Linked DNA regions of Homo sapiens. The protein of the gene in region 2 interacts with the protein of the main gene of each other region in a pairwise test. Each region holds a gene or a part of one and is shown on either strand. Other genes may lie near its edges. The genes, in order: HGF and LATS2.

The links.
Region 1: the proteins of LATS2 (region 2) and HGF come close enough for resonance energy transfer, tested with the Homo sapiens proteins (one large-scale study listed by BioGRID).

The regions. Positions count from the first base shown.
Region 1 is NC_000007.14:81,698,407-81,701,507, forward strand, and holds the end of HGF (hepatocyte growth factor isoform 1 preproprotein), read right to left. Parts: 3' UTR 604-3,101; downstream 1-603. UniProt on the Homo sapiens protein: Potent mitogen for mature parenchymal hepatocyte cells, seems to be a hepatotrophic factor, and acts as a growth factor for a broad spectrum of tissues and cell types.
Region 2 is NC_000013.11:20,984,806-20,988,637, forward strand, and holds part of LATS2 (serine/threonine-protein kinase LATS2), read right to left. Parts: coding exon 3,076-3,832; intron 1-3,075. UniProt on the Homo sapiens protein: Negative regulator of YAP1 in the Hippo signaling pathway that plays a pivotal role in organ size control and tumor suppression by restricting proliferation and promoting apoptosis.

The DNA.
Region 1 (3,101 bases), on a different chromosome or scaffold from region 2:
TCACTAGCTATGCCAGAATAAATTAGTACAGCAACCTTTTGGGGGAAAAAGGCAGTAAAATACAATTTGAAATAATCAGTGGTGTTATAGAGCTCTCTTTGCTTAGATCATTGAGGACTAGTTCTTCCAATTTGAATTAAATGAATCCATTGGATTCTTATTTATTCTTAACTGAATGCACACTTTAAAGAGATACCCAAAGTGATTCATTAAATAATTTAAAATCACCTTTGTATTATATAGTGGCATGAGAAAGGAAATTAGGTGAAAATTCATGGGAATATTTTGTATATATTGGCAAATAACAACATAGCACCATTCTAGCAAATATGAAGAATAAACAAATAGTTACATTTTACGGTGGGAGAAACTAAAGTACATAGAGATTAATGGTTTACTGAAGACCAACTATATTGCTGTGGATATTAGTTGGAATAAAATAATGATTTTTGTCTTAGTTCTATAAACAAGTTGTATTATAGTTTTTGCAAGAACGTGTATGTAATTTTTGTCAGTGAAGTCAACATTGCTATTTTCTGCATTTAGGCCCTAAGACAGATATAAATATGTACATGTAAATAATCATAACAGAGAAAATAAGCATTTTGATAAAATATTTTATTAATAATAATAATATAATCATGGTTATAAAAATAACAACTTTATTAACTACAGAAAGTTTATAATACAAGTCATAACCACAGTGTTCCCTTTTTTGGGTAAGCATACAGCTATACCACTCAATAGGCAGCTTATTAATTTCCTATTTACATACAAGACAAACAGTCATAGCATCCACAGTATTTCATTTTCAGTTTCCTAAAGACAGAAACTTTCTGTGCAAATGGAAATGAACCTACTTAAAAGTTACACTGTCAAGATATATATGGTCCAAAAAATTTTAACTTTTTTTGTATTAGTAAATTCTTAGCTCCAACCTTAGTTGAATGTTGAATGATAACTTCTTTTTGGACTTTATCATGACAAGTGATTTATTTTAAAATTATGTATTTTAAAAACAAAGGCCATGTACTTTTACCAAAATTAGTTTTATTTTTTAAATGAGTTTGCCTATATGTATGGGATGTAATTAATTATAATAGTATTTTTTGAATCTCAATAAATTGATTTAAGGCTTTTTAGTATAAGATCTTATTAAAATTCTTTACCACATGATCTCTATATTGCAAAACCAGTATTTCTTTTAAAAAAGTTTAAAAACAACAATGAAATGCCTGACAGCAATTTCCCACTTCTTGACAGTGTTCTTTTCAAGAGAATGTTGTGGCTATAACATTCACTTTGTACAGTACCATTGGTACCAACAAGAAATATTCACAGGAATAAGTGAAATACAATTTTGCTATCACATGCCATTATTGTTAATTTTCTTGCCTTCCAGTGTCTCACACTTCCCATAATTTGAAACACTTAGATAGCAAGCAAAAGCCTGTTAATACTAGAAATTGACTCAATAGATTTTACTGAGGACCTGCCCACAGCATATAGGTAAAAGTCATTACACATTTTACAATAAAATTAAAGAAGTATACAAAAGGATTATCATTCCTTCTGCACGGCAGAGGCATTATGAAAAATATTTTAGTTTTACACTTCAATTCCTGGTAGACGTGAGAAAATGTCTACAATTATAACAGTACATAACCATTATTCAAACAGCCAAACCAAAAATTGCATTGAAACCTTCTGATTTAAAAGATCCTTTTGTCAATGACACAAAATAAAGTGGATTGTTGGATTTTTAAAAATGTTTAATGATTTATTCAGCAAAGAACACCTGGTAAATAGTGTCTTCCACCAGCAAATAATGACATGACTCTACCCTGTTCTACCACCTAAAATAACATGGACCTTGTTCATCTAAGTTTCATTGTCAATTCCACCCATGTCCCTCTATCACGAAAGGAGCCTCCCAAAGAGAGAATTACTTTGTACGGTTTGTTTGATGATTTATTGGTGGTATTGTTTTTAGCCTTTAATAAAATGAAAAATACTAGCCTCAAAATGTCTAAATACTTAGCTGTATCTTGTATCTAGCTAATCTTTATCTGTATTTCCAGGAAATTTAGAGGAAGAGTCATTAAAGAAGTATTTTTAAAATGTGAGTATTTAAAATTATGACAATTTTTATAAAAGTTTTACAAATATCATTAATATGCAATAATAAAATTTCACTGGTTCAGCCAGAAGAAACTATGAAATATACTTTATATTTTGGCAATATGCTCTTGAAATTTCTAGGAGTTCTTACTAAAATGGTGTATTATATAAGGAAAATAGAAATACCATCAGATAAGATGATAGAGACCAGCAACTAGTTGGATGTCTTTTTGCTTCCACTTTAAGTTTCTTGATGCCAGCACATATCTTATTATGAAAAAAAAATTGTATAAGCATTTCTGGACTCGCCGCCCTATATTCTGTGGACTAAGCTCTCCATAAACTTAAAACCATTTTAGTCCAGATTGAACAGTACTCTAAAGAGCTGGTAGGGAATTGTTTGGGGACTTGGCCTTGATAAAAATCACTCAAGAAAACTAAGTCAGAGAAATGGGACTACTGGATTCACACCATTCAAAAAATTATTTTTAAAGGTGTTTTGTACAGGAAGATTTCTGCAAAAATTCAAAGCCTATCCTATTACTTTTTGTTATTCTATTTCTCAACAAATACATGATCTTTAGCTAAGCATGACAAATACAATGATAAATATGATAATTTGGCTGTTATACAGAACACAAAATTTAAATGTCTGTTACATATGGCATTAGGAGTGAACTTTGTAAAATGAAATAAGAAAAAATAAACATATCTTGATAAAATATCTGATTCAACAGATTCCACTCTACTTCAAAAAAAAAATAAATGAATACAGAGTTGAGACAAACTAGTTTCTTTCCTTTTACAAGTTGTCTTTTACTTCAAAAAAGCTTTATTAGGCTAAAATCTTCCAGGTTGAGAAAAGTATTTTTATTTTTTTCTCCAATATATACTTTAATGCATGACTTGATGAAGGGTATTTATAAAACTTTGGAGACTTGGAAATTTTCCTCTTAAATTTTTTAAAATTTAAAGGCAGT
Region 2 (3,832 bases):
ACATTACTAGAAAAAACAATACTAAAATTCACAGGGAGCCCAAATACTCAAAGCAATCCTAGGCAAAAAGAACAAAATTGTTACCTGACTTCAAAATATGTTACAAGCCTAGAGTAACTGAAACTGCATGGTATTGGTATAAAAACAGACACATAGACCAATGGAACAGAATAGAGAACCCAGAAATAAGTCCACGTATTTACAGCCACCTGATTTTTGACAACGGTGCCAAGAATGTACACTGAAAAAGAGACATGCTGGGAAAACTAGATATCCATATGCAGAAGAATGAAACTAGACCCCAATCTCTCACCATATAGGAATGTCAACTTAAAACAGATTAAAGACCTAGAAATAAGACCAGAGGCTATGAAAATATACTCCAGGACATTGGTTTGAGCAAAGATTTTTATGGCTAAAATCTCAAAAGCACAGGCAAAAAAACCCCAAAGTAGACAAATGGGACTATATTAAGCTAAAAAGCTTCTGCAGAGCAAAGGAAACAACAGAGTAAAGAGGATACCTGTGTTGAACAGGAGAAAATATTCACAAACTATTCATCTGACAAAAGACTATTATTCAGAATATACAAGGAACTCAACTCAACAGCAAAAAAAATATCAAATAATCCCATTAAAAAGTAAGCCAAAAGGCCAGATATGGTGGCTCACGCCTGTAATCCCAGCACTTTGGGAGGCTGAGGCAGGCGGATTACTTGAGGTCAGGAGTTTGAGACCAGCCTGACTAACATGGTGAAACCCCGTCTCTACTAAACATACAAAAATTAGCTGAGCATGGTGTCGCACACCTGTAGTCCCAGCTCTCAGGAGGCTGAGGCAGGAGAATAGCTTGAATCCAGAAGGCAGAGGTTGCAGTGAGCCGAGATTTCACCACTGCACTCCAGCCTGGGCAATAGAGCAAGACTCCGTCTTAATTAAAAAATAAATAAATAAAATAAGGCCAGGCGCGGTGGCTCACACCTGTAATCCCAGCACCCTGGGAGGCTGAGACAGGTGGATCATCTGAGGTCGGAAGTTTGAGACCAGCCTGAACAACATGGTGAAACCCTGTCTCTACAAAAACATAAAACTAGCTGGGCGTGGTGGTGCATGCCTGTAATCCCAGCTGCTCGGTAGGCTGAGGCAGGAGAATCACTTGAACCCGGGAGGCGGAGGTTGTGGTGAGCTGAGATCGTGCCATTGCACTCCAGCCTGGGCAACAAGAGCGAAACTCTGTCTCAAAAAGAAAAAAAAGTGAGCTAATGACCTGAATAGACACTTGTCAAAAGAAGATACACAAATGGCTAAGAGGTGCATGGAAAGATGCTCATTAACCATCAGGGAAATGCAAATGAAAACCACAATGAGATATAATCTCTCCCCAGTTAGAACGACTATTATCAAAAAGGAAAAAAAAGAAACTAAAAATAGAACTACCATACAATCTACCAAACCCATTATTGGGTATTTATCTAAAGGAAAGGAAATCAGTATATCAAAGGGATACCTGCACCCCATGTTTATTGCAGCACTATTCACAACAGTAAAAACATGGAATCAACTGAAGTGTCCATCAACTGATGAACAGATAAAGAAAATGTGGTCTGTGTACACCATGGGATACTATTCAGCCATAAAAAAGAATGAAATCCTGTCATTTGGAGCAACATGAATGGAACTGGAGGTCATTATGTTAAGTGAAATAAGCCAGGAACAGAAGTTCGGTTAGAACACCACACACTGTTACTGATATGTGGGAGCTAAAATAATTGATCTCATAGAGGTAGAGAGTAGAATGATAGTTACCAGAGGTGGGAAAGGGTGTGTGTGTGTTGAGGGGAGATGAGAAGTTAATTGGTGCAAACATACAGCTGGATAGAAGGAACAAACTCTAACTAGTATGACTATGGTTAGTAAAAATGTATTCAATATTTCAAAATAGCTAGAAGAGAGGTCTTGAAATGCTTCCAACACAGAAATGATAAATACACCAGGCAATGGATACTCTAAATACCTTGACTTGATCATTACATATCCTATGCATGTAACAAAATATCACATGTTCCCCACAAATCTACAAATACTATGTATAAATAAAAAATAAACGGCTGGGTGTGGTGGCTCACACGTGTAATTCCAGCACTTGGGGAGGCCGAGGTGGGCAGATCACCTGAGGTCAAGAGTTCGAGACCAGTCTGACCAACATGGCGAAACCCCCGTCTCTACTAAAAACACAAAAAAATGGCCAGGCGTGGTGGTAGGCACCTGTAACCCCAACTACTCGGGAAGCTGAGGCAGGAGAATCGCTTGAACCCAGGAGGCAGAGGTTGCAGCGAGCCAAGATCGCGCCATTGCGCTCCAGCCTGGGTGACAGAGCAAGACTCCGTCTAAAAATAAATTAAAAAATAAAAAATAAAAATAAAAAAAACACAAATGAAAAGTATATCTGTAAAAAAATCAGTGAATACGGGACACTGAAAAGAACACAAATCTGGTTTTCAGGCTTTGGAATTATTGGCTTTGTGTGATTTAAATCTGTTACATTTTAATTTAAATAGTTTCATCAATAATTACCTTCTTCAGCACTTCAGTGTCAACTAAGGTATATTTAAATCATTAGTTACTAACTAAACACTTAAAAGAATAAATGGAATCACTACTAGATACATTTTTCTTCCAAAATCCCACAATCTCAATTTACAAAACCTTAAACTTTGTTTCTACTCATTCAAATGTTCTATTATTAATCCATGATGAATTTTGTTAAGCGAGGACATACCCTAAAACTTAATTTGCTAATTTACCTACAATGTAAATTGTAGATTACCTACATTACGCTGGCTACATTATGCACAGCTATCTCTGATTCTTCAGAAGAGTCAAGGGGAAAGGCGAAAGGGAGGTCACACCATTTGCAACTTCTCCAAGTTGTTGGCCCCAGAACCAGACTGTCGCCCATTAGCCGTTTTGATGATAAGGGGTATACAGTCGAAACAGAAAAGGGATTGTGCGTGCTTCCTATTGCCAGTAGAGGGATGAGCCGGGAACAAATAGTAAAAATGAAGTGTGAAATTACTTTGGCCATTTCTTGCTCCAGCTGCAGCCTCCGGTTAACCTTCTGCTGGTAGGTTTTGATGACATTCTCCACGTGCTGCTCCATGAAGAACTTAAAGGCGTATGGCGAGTAGCTCTTGATGCGTGACTCTCTCTTCTCTTCGTCTCTGCTGTTTTTGCGGACGGGAACGGGAGAGGTCTGAATCTGCTTTTTATCCTTTCCGCCTTTGTCCCCCTTGGCGCTTTTGCGGCTCTTGTCGCCGCCCTCGGGCTCGTTGGGGCCCGCACGGAGGCTCTGCTCCATGCCTGCGCACAGGCTGTCCAGGTCGTACTGCTCCGACTTGCTGCGCAGCAGCAGGTGCTTCGGGTAGGGCGGAGGCGGGCACCTCCGGTCTGGGCCTCCGTACTCCACGTCCAGCGGGAAGGCGCCTGCGCCGCCCAGCGCCAGGGCATGCTCCTCCTTGGCGTCCAAGCCCTCCGCAGCCGGGGCGGGGGCGGGGGCGGGGGCCGGGGCAGGCGCGGGCACCCAGGCGGGGTGCGAGGGCCCCACAGCCGTCTGCGGCTCCGGCCTCAGCACACGCACGCTCTTCACCGGGTGCAAGATGTGCGCGGCCGTGACAGCCGTCACGGTGTTGGGGGCGGGCAGGGAGGGCTCGGCCTTGCCAGGCGGACCGGGCCGCGGCTGGTGGCTGTTGAAGGAGTTGGTCCTGCTGGGCACTGGGCAGTCAGGCCGGAAGGCCACGTGCGCGCGCGGCGGCGCCTCCAGGCCCGGCTTCTGC